2 separate regions of the Homo sapiens genome follow, and region 2 is linked to region 1. A link means that fine-mapping ties the variant in region 1 to the expression of a gene that starts in the linked region. Tissue or cell type: whole blood. Region 1 holds a variant in brackets; the other region holds the start of a gene. All regions are shown on one strand. Distances are between the middles of the regions.

Region 1 (8,108 bases):
TTGGGAGGCGAGATGGATCACTTGAGCCCAGGAGTTCGAGACCAGCCTGGCCAACATGGTGAAACCTTGTCTCTATGAACAATACAGAAAAATTAGTTGGGTGGGGTGGCACACGCCTGTAGTCCCAGGTACTTGGAAGGATGAGTTGGGAGAATCACCTGAGGCCGGGAGTTCGAGGCTGCAATGAGCCACGATCGCCTACTGCACTCCAGCCTGGGTGACAGAGTGAGACCCTGTCTCAAAAAAAAAAAAAAAAAGATTAACTTGGGTCTGGAGTTCTTTTTTCACCTACACATAATTGTAACTCAAAATCCTTATTTCAGAAAATGTGTATGTGGATGTAAAAATGCCATAGTTAAGTGCCTATTTGAACACTCAGTAAAGTCTAAAGCCTGTTATTAAGTGTATATGTACCATACAGCTTACATAACATGAGAAATTAAAAGATCATGACAGGGGCCTCCCAGGATTTGGGCAAGTCATCACAGCCAAGAACTCTATTTAGTACTGTGTCCCAGGCAAACCAAAGATTTACTGTTATTAGGAATGGAGCTAATTGGAAACATTTGCCAGTCTTCTAGTGTTGCCTTGTATAGGCCTTGATGAGAAGTCATTTCTTTGTCTGTGCTTACTAGAAACCTGTGATGACCCATCAAGGTTCTGAACTACACTGAAGAAATGGGACAGGATTAGTGATCATAGCAGCTACAAAAGTTTATTTAGGCCAGGCGTAGTAGCTCATGTCTGTAATCCCAACATTTAGGGAGGCTGGGGCTAGCAGATCACTTGAGGTCAGGAGTTCCAGACCAGCCTGGCCAAATGGTGAAACTCCGTCTCTACTTAAAATACAAAAATTAGCTGGGCCTGGTGGCGCGTGCGTGTAGTCCCAGTTACTCAGGAGGCTGAGGCAGGAGAATTGCTTGCACTGGGAGGTGGAGGCTGCAGTGAGCTGAGATCATGCCACTGCCCTCCAGCCTGGGTGACAGAGTGAGACCCTGTCTCAAAAAAAAAAAAAAAAAAGTGTATTAAATGTCTGTTACATAGGTGTAACAGGTGCCAACTTAACTATCAATCAAACCATTTGAGCTGGATCTTCTATTGAAGGATGACAGATTGCATAAACAAGTAATTATTAAAAAGGATCTTGGTTACTATTAACAAACACCAATTTCCTCAACTAATCTACTGGCACTGACCAAGACCTGGGTGATTAGCAGTTTAAGAGCTTTTCACTGGCTAGCTTGCCTTCAAATTGCCCTTTATTGAAAAAGAATATCATGTTTCTTTCAGTTATTTGTAGAACCTGGCCTTCAATGATGAATTCAGTGTATTATCTGCTGGACTTAACAACTAGAAATTTCTAATAGTAAGTTTCTCTCTACTGATTCCTAGGTAAAGCAATATTAAAGGTGACAAACAAAAGAAAACAGTGATTATCATTGTACCCTCGTACCCTGGCCAGCAGCATCAACATTATCGGATGACTTTCTGGAAAGGCAAATCTCAGGCTCCACCCCAGACCTACTGGATCAGAAAGGCTGAGGGTGGGGCTCAGCAATCTGCTTTTAACTAAGGGCTTAAGAACCACTGCAATAGGATAAACACAACATAAAACAGAGATTTTGGCTAGGTGTGGTGGCTCATGCCTGTAATCCCAGCACTTTGGGAGGCTGAGGCGGGCGGATCACTTGAGATCAAGAGTTCCAGACCAGCCTGGCCAACATGGTGGAACCCCACCTCTACTAAAAATACAAAAAATTAGCCGGGTGTGGTGGTGTGTGCCTGTAGTCCCAGCTACTCAGGAGGCTGAGGCAGGAGAATTGCTTGAACCCAGGAGGCGGAGTTTACAGTGAGCCAATCTCATGCCACTGCACTCCAGCCTGGGTGACAGAGCGAGACCCTGTCTCAAATAATAATAATAATAATAATAATAATAATAATAATAATAATAATAATATTTTCAAGAAAGAAACTGTAATCAACTCCTTAAATTGTAGAGATGGTCAGGGAGCCTGAGCAAAGCTTTTGGGTGGACAGCTCAGGTTTGTTTTAGGAGACTCTAGCAAGTGACCTGACCTAGCAGTGACAAAACATGAGTGCTGTCATCTAATCCCCCAAAAGAAATACTTCTAAAGGGCCAGGCGCAGTGACTCATGCCTGTAATCCCAGCACTTTGGGAGGCAGAGGTGGGTGGATCACCTGAGGTCAAGAGTTCAAGACCAGCCTGGCTTTGAGGTGAAACCCTGTCTCTACTAAAAATACAAAAATCAGCTGGGTGTGGTGGTGGGTGCCTGTAATCCTAGCTACTCAGGAGGCTGACGCAGAAGAATCGCTTGAGCCTGGGAGGCGGAGGTTGCAGTGAGCCCAGACCATGCCACTGTACTCCAGCCTGGACAACAGAGTGAGACTCCATATCAAATTAAAAAAAAGAAAGGAAAAAAAAAAAGAAATACTTCTAAGGGACAACAGCTCTTTCACTGGGTATTACCAGGTGGCAGAGAGTGGGCTAACCCCTTTCTCTACAGGCATATTATGCTATTAACATCAGTGTCCCTATTTCATGGATATGAAAACAGAGTTAAGGGAGATTAAGCAATTTAAACTCACAAAGCAAATACGACTCCAAACCTGTGCTTTAACAACTTTGCCTTACTCCTCCAGGATTCTAGGAAGAGGGGACAGGAAATAGGGAAGGAGCAGAGGAAAGATTTTAACTTTGAGGCTTCAGCATTTATCATTATGGTAGCCACTGATTAATTCCACCAAAATATGTATTGCTTAGGTGATGACAGTCTGCGTTTTTAAACTAGATCAAACTGGATTAACCACATCAAGGATCTGAACATAGATAACAAGACTTAATGTGTTAGCAGTGTTTCTTGAACCACACCAAACCAGAACAAACCAAACAAAAACCATAGCCTAGTTGTCCCTTAGTAGTGAGGACACCAAATTTAGGGTTTTATTGTTGTTGTTATTGTTTTGGTTTTTTTTTTTTTTTTCCGAGATGGAGTCTCGCTCTGTTGCCCAGGCTGGAGTGCAGTGGCACAATCTCAGCTCACTGCAAGCTCCGCCTCCTGGGTTCAACAGATCCTCCTGCCTCAGCCTCCTGAGTAGCTGGGACTATAGGCACCTGCCACGATGCCCGGGTAATTTTTATATGTTTAGTAGAGATGGAGTTTCACCATGTTGGCCAGGCTGGTCTGGAACTCCTGACCTCAAATGATCCGCCCGCCTTGGCCTCCCAAAGTGCTGGGATTACATGCATGAGCCACCGTGCCCGGCCCCAAATTTGGTTTTTGAAAAACACTTTTACATGAGCTGCAAAACCAGACTCCAGTCATTTTCGGCAGAACCTTAAAACAGGGAGTTGCAAACTGCTACAGGTGAGAAGTCCAATATATCAATTAAAGCTCCTTAAACCACACAAGGTATTCCTGAAGCCCCACTTTTTATACTGATTCAAAAAGCTCAGAGTAAGATCTCTACCCTGGATGAGTTATCTCTGTTACTGTTAGGGTATACTAAGGCCTGGGATGGGATGAAGAAAAGAAGAAACAAGCTGACACTTTCATTCACAGTCAATCATATGCAAAAGCAGAAAGCTAGAGCTCAAGTTCACTCAATGCCTAATGCCACTCCTGATTATTGCAA[G/A]TTAGTTCCGAAAAACTGATTACAGACTGAGCTAACTGCATAACAGCTAAAAGAAAGAGCCCTCTTCACTTTCTACCCACCCAGACTAAACTTAAAAGAGAGCAGCTCCACCTAGCCGGGTAAGCGAGGTGAATTCATTTGGTCCAACCCCTAAATGCACAGATGAGAGAAACAAGACCCACTGAAGTTTGAAAACTTACCAAAGTTCCCACAGTAGGTGGCAACAGATCTAAAGGACCAGAGGTTTGTTCTCTGGACAACTGCAGGCCGGAGCACAAGAGGAGGAAGAGGAGAGAATTGGAAAGCTAGGGAGGAACGGAAGAGGAGGGAGGGGCCGGGAAAGGAAACACCCAGCTGGCTGTGCCAGCCCTTGCTCTCCTCCCCTCCTAAGCCACAGGGTCTTTCATTTTTGGAATTTCCTCCCTACCTTTAAACCTTTCTTGATTTAAACCTTTCTTGATCAGACCTTAAACCAAGTCAGGTTGCAGCTATTTACAGAGTGAAAAGTGAGAACTGAAAGAATTATATAAGCCTTTCTCCTGGCCTCTGGCCAAATCTAGGGATGCCTCCCACTGTTTCTGTGAGAGGTGGGAAGTTGTTGGCCCATCCTTCATCCTAAGAAGCTCCTTCACAGGGCTACAGGTGTGAGCATGCAAAGAAGGCCTTCATGGGGGTTTAGGTGTGAGCATGCATTTCTAGGCTTCATGCATTTCTAGCGCCTTCATGGGGGTTCAGGTGCGAGCATGCATTTCTACACCATCTCTGGTCCCCAGCTTCCTCAGACCTCTCAGCTTCTCTTTCATAGGATGATAAAAGATATTCTTTGGGCTTTTATTTATGTACTCATTTACTGAGACAGAGTCTCGCTCTGTCATCCAGGCTAGAGTGCAGTGGCGCGATCTCGGCTGACTGCAACCTCTGCCTCCTGGGTTCAAGTGATTCTCCTGCCTCAGCCTCCTAAGTAGCTGGGATTACAGGCACGCACCACCATGCTCGGCTCATTTTTTGTATTTTTACTAGAGACAGGGTTTCACCATGTTGCCCAGGTTGGCCTCAAACTCCTGAGCTCAGGCAATCGGCCGGCGTTGGCCTCCTAAAGTGCCAGGATTACAGGCGTGAGCCACAGCGCCCATCCACTTTGGGCTCTTAAGGTGGCCATCCTAGGCACTTGCTATGTGTGACAAGTGCCTAGGATGCATTTTACTTACACAAACTCATTTAGTCTTCATGGCACCCAAGATGTTGGTGCTCTAATTTACAGATAAGGAAACTGAGATTTAGAAAGATCACCTAGCTGCCCATCATTTTACTAGAGCTAGTACACAGGCAGCCAGTACATACCTAGGAAAAAATCAAAAATACCAACCAACCAATCAGCTCTAGGCCTATGATTTGCAGTAATACGGTTTGGCCTTTAGAACTGCATTCAGTCCCAGGTCTCTCTGTTCCTAGGAGTTTTGTGGTCTTAGATAAACTAACCTTTGTGAGCCTGCATTTCCATATTATAAAAATACAAATAGTGACCTGTTGCATAGGATTCTTGGGTATATTACAATAGAATGCAATGAAGGCACTTGCCTATGTTCAATAAATGTGTTCCTTCCTGGCCAGGTGTGGTAGCTCACGCCTGTAATCCAGGCACTTTGGGAGACTGAGGTGGGCAAACTGCTTGAGCCCAGGAGTTTGAGATCAGCCTAGGCAACACAGTGAAATCTCATCTCTATGGAAAATACAAAAATTAATCAGACGTGGGGTACACACCTGTAGTCCCAGCTACTCGGGAGGCTGAGATGGGAAGGTCACTTATGCCCAGGGGGCACGTGATCTGCAGTGATCCATGATCATGCCACTGCACTCCAGCCAGGATAACAGAGAAAAATCCTGCCTCAAAACAACAACAACAAAAATGTTCCTTCCTTTCTGAAGGTAGCATAATAAACCAAAGATTTTACCAAACACTTTATTCCTACCACTCTCTGCCCAGGCTGGTGGTCGATTATTACTATTGAGAAGAATCCTAAAGGGGTGATCTGGGTTAGAGTTGGCAGATTTAATATATTGGACATACTTATACTAAAAAATTGCTCGTTGTTCATCTGAAATTCCAATTTAACTGGGCGTCCTATATTTTTATTTGCTAAATCTGGCAACTCTAAGGGCTTATAATAAACTGCCTGGGAAAAGAACTTTGAAAGTAACTTGCCAAGTTCCGAGTTGTGAGCAGTTTGGGGCTTGGTTTGACAGAGTCTATTGGCAACCAGTGGAAGCTCAGCCTAGAAACTCACTTTTCCAACATCATGACTGATCCACAGGATTGGTGTCAGCCTTTTATTTTCTCAGCATTCTACCAAAGATGCATCCTGTAGCAGGAAACCTGCTTGTGTTCTGGGAAGTGCAGTGTCCTCTCAGCTAGAATTCCTTTGTCATTACATTTTTGTCTGTGGCCTAACTTGTAACAGGGGACAATTACTCTGCCCATCTGCATGCTTGATGGGGATCAACTGTCAAGCTATTTGTTTTTAGGTCTAAGGAATTTCTAATGAGAATGAAAATGTGATGAAAGATTTTTCTAAACGTCAGCCAGCTCCCTGAGGACTCCGATCATGTCTACTTTGAACCTTTAACTCTCTTAATAATGGGTAGAAGAAATATCATCCATAAGAATGACTTAGGTTGGGAAGCAGGTTAACATGAAAATCTACAAATATTTAAAATAAAAATATTTTATTTCTCTCCTGTTAAATTCATAGAGACAGAAAGTAGAATGGTGGTGGCCATGGACTGCGGGAGGAGTGAATAGGGAGCTGTTTAATGGGTGCAGAGTTTCTGTTTTTCCAAGATGAAAAAGTTCTGGAGATTGGCCGTACAACATAAACACGTCCAGGCGTGGTGGCTCACGCCTGTAATCCCAGTACTTTGGGAAGCTGAGGCGGGTGGATTGCCTCAAGAGTTCGAGACCAGCCTGGCCAACATGGTGAAACCTTGTCTCTACTAAAAATACAAAAAATTAGCCAGGTGTGGTGGTGCGTGCCTGTAATCCCAGCTATTCAGGAGGCTGAGGCAGGAGAATCGCTTGAACCCAAGAGGCGGAGGTTGCAGTGAGCCGAAATCATGCCACTTGCACTCCAGCCTGGGCGACAGAGCAAGACTCTGTCTCAAACACACACACACACACACACACCCAACATAAACATTACTTAACACTACCAAACTCTATTCTTAAAAATGGTTGAGATGATAAATTTTATGTATATTTTACTACAATTTAAAAAAATTTATTCTTAAATCTAGAGTTAGAAAAAGGATACATAGGCCAGGCATGATGGCTCATGCCTGTAATTTTGGGAGGCCGAGGAGGGTGGAACCCAAGGTCAGAAGATCGAGACCATTCTGGCTAACATGGTGAAAACCCATCTCTACTAAAAATACAAAAAATTAGTCGGGCGTGGTGGCATGTGCCTGTAGTCCCAGCTACTTGGGAGGCTGAGGCAGGAGAATTGCTTGAACCCGGGAGGCGGAGGTTGCAGTGAGCCAAGATAGCGCCACTGCACACTCCAGCCTGGACGACAGAGCAAGACTCTGTCTCAAAAAAAAAAAAAAAAAAAAAAAAGAACACGTAAAAGAAAAACAATCAATGCAGATAATGTTTTCCTACAAAAGAATGGAAAGTCAAAGAAATGTGTTTCTCTTCTGGGAAACTTCCTACTAGACAAGTGAAAAATTATTTATGGTCAACTTGAAGCCCCAACTCTTTAATCCTTCTTCCTGTATGTGTGATTCAATGTGTCTTTCCTGATCACACAAAAAAATGGATTAACCGCATTAGCCATCTGAACACAGATAAGAAGACTGTATTGTTATGTGTTATGTTATCACTTAGTGTGTTTCCAGAAACAAACCAAAAGGCCTGGAAATGCTTATCAGCGGGGGAATGTAGAATTCTCCCTCAACAATGTCGTCTCACAGCTCCTGTAGACTCTGGATGGTTTGCACTTTGAGAAGTGGAAGTAGTTCATGTCATGCTACTTTCTATTCCTACCGAATGCCACGCATGCCTGTGTCTCAGCCAGCCGCTACCTGAAGAGGCCAAGTATGCTGAGTTTCATTTCAGGACCAAGTAGCTATGATGGGTGTAACGGCCTGGTCCACTCCAGTGGAGAAAGAAACTGAGAACTCAAATGGGTCAAGAGAGTTACTTCCTGTATAGGACTGATCCTATGTGGTGTTAGTAACTGTCTAAAGATGTATTAAGGTGGGACTTAGGGTTTTTGTGTTCATTTAGTTGCATCAGGTTTTTTTAAGCTGTGAAATGCAAGGGGTTTTGAAATGCAAAATACTTAAGCTGTGAAATGCAGAAGCCTGACTCCTACTCTGATTCTATGGTTCATAGAGTAGAGTGTGTGGTCCAGCAAGAGGCTGAAATAAGAGTGGAAAATGCTGCTTATGTGTCCCCT
Region 2 (8,108 bases), 150 kb after region 1:
TACAGAAATACCTTATAGCTAGTATCTTAATTATTCATGGTTTGTTGGCAAATTAAGTCACTTGCTTCTCCAATATCTAGAAATGGAAGAAGTGTTCAATTCCAAAGAAATTATGCCTTCCTAGCTTTGCTAGCCTGACAATAATGTTGTTGGCAAATACCTTATGAATAGGTGGGAGATCTTGTTTCACTTATAGTATATGAATAAAAAGAACACCCCCAGGAGACTGACAGGTATTTCATGTAATGGATACCTCCCTTCCCACCCTATTTCTCTCTAGAGTGATGAAGCTTTGGCTTTCCTTACAAACAAGACTATTCAGACTAGAAGCAAGAAAAATGACACCTTTTTATCAACAAGATCATCTAAAATTTGGTTCAGTAAAATATGTAACTCCCTGGTGTGTGTGTTTCTAGTCCATATGCCTGAAAGCTGAGCAGTGCAGTGGAACAATCCCCTCTCTGATTTAGAATTCACAATTATGGGATAGCAAAGGGGTAATCTTATGATAAGCCCCTTAACTCAAATTCCTGTGGCAAAATACATACAAAGGTATTTGAGCATTAATCTTTGTACTTATCTTGAAAAATAGCTAATATTTTTATGTAAAGAGCACTAGATTTGATATTCTAATGATGCAGTGAACATTGTTGGTTGCATTTCAGCCAAACATTTTGCCTTTCCTCCCTGGCAGCTCTGTGGTCTGAGTAGGGCCAACCTCAATCCTAGGTTCAGAAATGGGTCCCTTCCCCTCTAGCCTCAGCAAATCAATGCAATCCAGTGTTTCTTAACCTTTTAATTCATTGTTATCTGCTTAAGGAGCCTTTTTAGATTTTTGTTTGTTTGTCACCCCTCCTATTTTATTTCATTTTATTTATTTATTTTGAGACAGAGTCTCACTCTGTTGCCCAGGTTGGAGTGCAGTGGTGTGATCATGGCTTACTGCAAACTCCATCTCCCAGGTTTAAGTGATTCTCATGCCTCAGCCTCCCGAGTAGCTAGGATTACAGGCATGTGCCACCATGCCTGGCTAATTTTTGTATTTTTAGTAGAGATGGCGTTTTGCCATGTTGGCCAGGCTGGTCTCGAACTCGTAAGCTCAAGTGATCCACTCGCCTCAGCCTCCCAAAGTGCTGGGATTACAGGCATGAATCACCACACTCAGCTACTTTTTGTATTTTTAGTAGAGACGGGGTCTTGCCATGTTGGCCACGCTGGTCTTGAACTCCTGACCTCAAGTGATCTGCTCACCTTGGCCTCCCAAAGTGCTGGGATTAGAGGTGTGAGCCACTGCACCCAGCCCAATCCCTCCCATTTTAATGTCACAGATATGCTGTATTTCTGTTTATATATTGCATGTATATTCGTGCTTTATAAATAAAAGTAGTGAATTTTTTTCCCACCCCCCTCCTCCAAAACAATTTTTGCCTCCTTTGGGCCATTTCACTCTCATTGAGAATGCATAAATTGTCATCCCATACTCTGTGCCAATCAGTGCATGGCATCAGGAGTGGGTACAGACCCTAAATTGGAGTTCCAGCATGTAAACTGGGACTTTTTTTTTTTTTTTTTTGATAGTTGGAGGATATGAGAAATTCTTTCTTTCTGGATGTGTGGATATAAGGCCTGAAACTGCTGTGATTATCTGCTATTGTGAGGGAAGAAACCAGCTGAAGATAAAGCCAACACATCAGCAAGACCAGGTCTGAAAGCATGGTACCCTGATCAAACAATACCTAAAGTTCATTCTACTGCTAGACTTTTCAGCTGTGACAAAAGTCATTTCTTTTTACTCTGTAGGCAAGTTTGAATTGGGTTTTCTATTATAATAAAAAAAATCCTAACTCATGGAAAAGATAACATTTATTGGATGCTTTCTAAACTCCAGGCAGCGTGCTAAATATCTCACGTCAATTAATTCTTTTATCAATCTCTGTGATTAGTACTATTAATTTCTCATTTTATAAATGATGAAGCTGAAGTATAGTAAGATTAACTTACCCACGGTCATACATAGGCAAAGACTGGATTAACTCCCTTGTCTATTTAACTTGCAGTTACTGTCTTTTAGTTCTACACAATTAAGTCACTACTTTTTCACTTAATATTTGAAAAGCATTAAAAAATGATCTTCCTTTGCAAAGGATTATGTTGCACAATTAAGAATATTCAAAGGCTGAAAATATTTTTGAAAATCTTATTTTTGCAAAAGCACAGGAAATATTAAACTTAGAGATCATTTTCTTCTGATTCTGTATTCATAAAAGCCTTTGTTATTTATTTTCATTGATACATATTAGATGTACATAGTTCGGGGGTACATGTGATAATGTGACACATTCATATAATCAAAGCAGGGTTATTGGGATAGCCAATGCTTTAAATATTTTAATTAATTAATTTTTTAGAGGAGGTCTCCCTCTGTCACTTAGGCTGAAGTGCAGTGGGACAATTATGGCTCACTGCAGCATTGAACTCCTGGGCTCAAGTGATCCTCCTGCCTCAACGTCTTGAGCAGAGAGAACCACAGGTTCATGACGCTATACCTGGCTGATTTTTAAATTTTTTGTAGAGATGGGGTCTCACTATGTTGCTCAGACTGGTCTTGAACTCCTGGGCTCAAGTGATCCTCTCACTTCAGCCTCCCAAAATGTTGGGATTACAGGCATGAGCCATGGTGCCCAACCGTTATCTTTTCTTCGTGCTAGAAACATTCAAATTATTCTCTTCTAGTTATTTTGAAATGTACAATTGATTAAAGTTAAAAATAAGGAGTGGGGACTTATTTTTTTTTTATTTTTTATTTTTTTAAGAGATGGGTCTCACTATGTTGCCCGGGCTGGCCTCAAACTCCTGGGCTCAAGGGATCTTCCTGCCTCAGCCTTCTGAGTAGCTGGGATTATAGACACACAGCACACTGCCTGACTACCACCATTATTTTAGATGTTCTTATCAATTATGATATGGTATTGGCTCAGTCACCATCCATTTTAGAGAAAAGAAAAAAATACATATATTTTAGTAGCTCAGTGTCTCAAATTGCTATTCTGCATAAAAATTATCAGTCAACCTTATAAAGAATCCATAAGGTCTCAGGTTTCTGGAATCTTTATTTTTGAATTGGTCAGTAACAGTATTACAGATAAGCCATAAATCCTCTGAATCCTTGGGGAGTGAGGCACAGAGTCACTCTGGTTGGCTACAATATTTGCGTTCCCTTTTTGAAAGTTTCTCAAACACTAAAAAGGAAAAACAAAATTACATAAGGGGCACTTATTCTACAGACCAAACTGAACAGGGATTTCCCAAGAGAGGAAAAAAAAGGCTTGAAAGACAGACACACTTCTGGCTCCAAAAAGCCAGAGAGCTATGTAATGTGGCCAGATGGGATATATCCACAATTCCCTAATACTCTCAAACTCCCACATGCTGCCCTGGTTCCCAACCTGCCTTTCAGATTCCATTTCAAAATGCAAGATATCACAGATATGTTATACAAAGCAGAAGCAGTGAAAGCACAAGTTCAAATGTTCCTCATATTTTAACAAGGGTGACAAGGGGACGCTGACTCTTTAGACTTCCACAGGCTAACCTTAGGTGCTGGCCTTTTCATTTTGCCTGATTGATGGAAGATTATGGTTTGTCAAAATCAAGTGCTTGATCATGTATGAGACACAATATAATAAGACATAAATTCTAGACATATTAGGAACAGGGTCAAATGGGGGGAAATCCAGGAACTGCAACAAAGCTATTCCACATCACAGGAAAGAAAATATGATATTATCTTTCCACAGTAGACACCAAGTATATTTCTAAACAATGCAGATTTTTAAAAATCTCAAATATATTAACAACCAAAGCACAGAACTTTTAAATTCATAAATTACTGTCTAAAAAAAAAAAAAGAAATCCAGGCAAACTGCAGTACCAGAGAGGATGAATGGTCTCCTAGTTGAGCAAAGTTGCTGCATTTTTTGCCTGCAGGATGGGACCGAGCAGAGAAATAAAGGGGCTGTGTTGTGTGACAGGGAGTAAATCCTAACATGAGCATTCCAACGTGTAGCCGGGCCACCCCTCCCTTCCCCAGCCTGTCATCCTCCTGCAAAGTGTTCACAATTTGCTGTCCTTCCTTCCAAAAGCCAGTAGACACAGAATCAGCTTTTCCTGGCTCTGCCTTACAAGTTGGGGCTGCCTGATGGAAAACTGAAAATCCAACGGAAGGATAAAAATCCACCAAGGCCCCCTCTGCCAGCAAATTGGTGTGAAACCGTTGCTTCAGAAGCAGCCACTCCCACCCCCAATGAAATTAAAAAGAAGGACTCATTTGAATGTCTAAGTGGCTTTCTGAAGACCCTCTGTTGCAAAGCAACAGCCTCCCTAGTCAAGCGCCCGCCAGTACACCATTGCTCTGTAACAGATGTCTGCAAACGCTGGGACTATCTCGCAAGTGCCCCCCATGCCCGATTTGAAAAATTCACAAGCTCTGTCAAGCAATAATTACCTAGAGCTGCTGAGCGTTTGACCCAAGGGCCAAGCAGTCTGCTAGGAGTTTAAGAAGAGCTGGGGGGAATAAAATCATACAGGTGGAGCCTGCTTCCCACGAGTGCCCGGCATCCTGCTGGGGCCCTCGGGTGCCGCGCGCTCCAGCTCACCTGGTACACGTCCTGCAGCCCGCACCACGTCCGCAGCACCTGGTGGCAAGCCCGCAGCCTCTCCGTGTACCATCTCCGCAGCGTGGACACGGTCAAGTTCCATACGAAGCGGCTGCCGCTGAACAGCAGGTCCTCCACGCCACACATGAACACCGAAGCCATGCCTCCTCCTTCGCTCTGAACCCGGGCGTCCCGGCTCTCGTACGTGCAGCCCCGACCCCAGCGGCCTGCCCGCCTGGGCTCCCGACGCCGGCTTCTGCTGGCAGCCGGGGGGTCAAGCCTGCCACCAAACTCGTCTTTCACCGTGCGTCCTGGCCAGGCTCCGGCGGCATGCCCTGGGATTGGGTGCCCGCCAGCCAACGGCTGCGACTGGCACACAGAAGCCCAGTGTCCACCCCCGCCCGCTCGCAGCGCCGAGCAAGCTGTGCTAAGCTCCACCAAGCTGGCCCTCGATGCTCCCGGGGCACGGGAAGCCCTGGCCGGCGAGGACTCCCCCTGGCGCTTCCCCAGGGCGCGGGGCAGGGACGGAAGCGGAGCAACTCTTTGCAGGCAGAGAGGGGAGCTGCATTTCAGCACACTTGGCTTCCACGTCTTGCGCGCGCGCGAACACACACACACACAGACACACACCCCCCACACCGGACGAGTGGTCTCCTAATCTGCCTCGGGGAACACCTTACTCATCTTGCTCTGTTCACACTGATAAAACACCTCTGGGCAGCCACAGATGCAGAAGAGAGAGAGAGAAAAAAAAAAATCTCCAAGGCATCCCTTTGGACCCTACTCCTGGGGGAATAGCCACGAATGTTTCCTTGGTTCTGCTGGAAGCAGGAGATGAAGGCAACAGTCTCAAAGCAACAGGCGGCCCTAGAACCTGCCTTTGCTCCTAACTTGAGGGTCTCAGAGAAAATGACAGCCTCCTGTGGTTGCCAGCAGGAAGGCAGGTTTCCTCACACCAAGATGCTGCTAATACCAATGCAGCAGTCAGGGAGAAAAACAGAGTTCTTGGTCCCTTGTAAATAGCTTGCCGTTACTAGTGCTGGGAAACAGAAGCCCATAAGAGAATCGGTGGTTTAGTTCTGGAAAATTCAGCCTCTGGACATGTCTAACCTCACCTGCAAGCACCAACCTGCATGGGTAGTTTATTCTCCCCTCAAAACCAAAGGAAACTGTTCCACCACTCATGAAGTCACTAGATAATTAATCTTATTTATTTATTTATTAAAGTTTTCCCTCGGGAATTGATGCTGATTGTTGGAAACATTTGGAAAAGGGAGCTCAAGGAGTCTCGCCTACCACCAGTCTCTGTCTTCCTTTATTTATTTTTGAGACAAGGTCTGTTGCCCAGGCTGGAGAGCAGTGACTCAATCATAGCTCACAGCTGCCTTGAACTCCTGGGATGAAGTGATCCATCTTCCCACCTCAGCCACGGGGACTACAGGTGCTAAGTTTATTATCATTATTTTTTTTGTAGAGATGGGGTCTCACTATGTCGCCCAGGCTGGTTTCAAATGCCTGGGCTCAAGCAATCTTCCAGCCTCAGCCTCCCAAAGTGCTAGCGTTACAGACATGACCCATTGTGCCCAGCCTCCATTTTCCCTTAGAATGTATGAAGATTTCTCATAGCAAAAGTGCTGTAGCAAATTTCAGGATGGAGTTTTTTCCTGAATCCATCTGTAAGTCAATTGTCTGTATTTTCTTGGCTGTTTCACATCTGGGTTGTTATCTATGCTATTAAGTGGCACCAAAAGGAAAGGTAAGGCACCAAAGCTTTTCTCCTGAACTAGCCCAGAAGACTCCAGAACAGATTATCGACAAGTAAATCAGCTTGATTTCAGGTATCAAATGTGCTTTTATAATCTTAATTCAGGTGAAACTCAATCAGTCAAAAGACGAAGAACACAAAATCTGTCCTCAAAGTGCCTGTTGTTTTCAGTGACTGTAATCAGAAAACTTTTAAATGAGATTTCTTTCGTTAATAAAATTGCCCAAGAGTTTTTGTTGAATTAGTTAATAGGACACAAGACTTGGTCCAAGATTTGCAAACCTTTCTTCACAATAAGTCTTCTCTATGTGCCATCAGTATTAGTATTGATGGTTTTTTTTTCAAGATGATGGTAACGATGAATCTGAATATAATAGATTTTACTGAATCAAAAGAAAATGAACTTAGCTTGAAAAAGAACTGTCATCATGCTGAATGGAAAACTACTGAACTTCAAAAATGCCCTATTAGTACGAGCAAATGGTGGTGGTACTTTTTTTTTTTAAACGATGCAGTTCGACTGTGTTCTCGGAAATGTCAGGCAGCCAAGGGAATACCAGAATAAAACCTACAACAGGTCAATTACCTCTGTCTCATGACACCATCCTCTCAGAAGAGAGGCTCTAGAAACACTCTGGCTGTTAGCTATCTGTGCGTAGGTCTAATGTCAGCAGTCACTTTCAAATTCCATCATTTTCATTCAAGGTTTCCAAAGTCAGGGCAATTTTTTAGAAGATAGGATGTAGTATAATAGGGGCTCTCAAAGTGTGGTCACTGGGCCAGCAGCTTTAGCATCACCTGGGAATTTGCTAGAGATGCAAGCTCTCAGGCAGCCCTGGAATCAGAAATTGTTGGGGGGTGAGATCAGCGATCAGAGCTTTCAGTTGGCCTCTGGAGGATTCCGACTCATGCTAAAATTAGAGAACTACAATAGTGATAGTATGGTGATTAGGAGCTAAATCTTCTAAAAGAGACCCACCCAACTTCAGATCTCCTCTCCTCAGGACCCGTGAGACCCCATATAAGCTCCTTAAGTCAACAAAGTCTCAATGTCCTCATGTGTACAATGTATTATCAGTATTCACTACAAAAAGTTTGGGGAAAATTAAGTAAAATATTCTGTATAAGGTCTTTAGCACGGTGTCTGGTGAAGGGTAAGCATCCAAAGAAAACTAATCACCATAACCCCCCGAATCAAGAATTGCTTCAGTTTTTTGTAGTCAGATAAAACAGTATAAGTAAAATGTGGGTTTTTAAAATGATAGATTTAGTGAGTATAAGTGCAGTGTTGTTATATGGATATATTGCATTGTGGCGAAGTCTGGGCTTTGAGTGTAGCCATCACAAGAATAGTGTACATTGTACCTATTAAGTTATTTCTCATCCTTCATCCCCTCCCACCCTCTGACCCTCCCCAGTCTCCATTGTCTCTTAGTCTACTTTTTTTTTTTTTTTTTTTGAAACGTAGTCTCCCTCTGTCGCCCAGGCTGGAGTGCAGTGGCACCATCTCAGTTCACTGCAACCTCCGCCTCCCGGGTTCAAGTGATTCTCCTGCTTCAGCCTCCCGAGTAGCTGGAATTACAAGTGCACAACACCACGCCAGGCTAATTTTTGTATTTTTACTAGAGATGGGGTTTCAGCATGTTGGCCAGCTGGTCTCGAACTCCTGAACTCGTGATCCTCCCCCC

Evidence for each region. PIP is the estimated chance that this variant, and not a neighbour inherited with it, causes the effect.
Region 2: it holds the start of FRMD4B, and the variant in region 1 is fine-mapped to the expression of FRMD4B in whole blood (TOPMed, PIP above 0.99).

What each region holds. Positions count from the first base shown.
Region 1 is chr3:69,233,243-69,241,350 of GRCh38, forward strand. All of the region lies in intron 7 of FRMD4B (FERM domain containing 4B), which reads right to left. Among named protein-coding and RNA genes, the nearest start is that of LMOD3, 110 kb to the left of the region's middle. RefSeq lists enhancers at 1,784-2,285, 2,286-2,785. The variant G/A (reference allele first, on the strand shown) is at 3,655.
Region 2 is chr3:69,381,173-69,389,280 of GRCh38, forward strand. FRMD4B (FERM domain containing 4B) reads right to left here and starts at 4,916. Exons shown (of 23, transcript NM_015123.3): 1 at 4,656-4,916. The coding sequence starts at 4,817. RefSeq lists an enhancer at 4,383-4,993.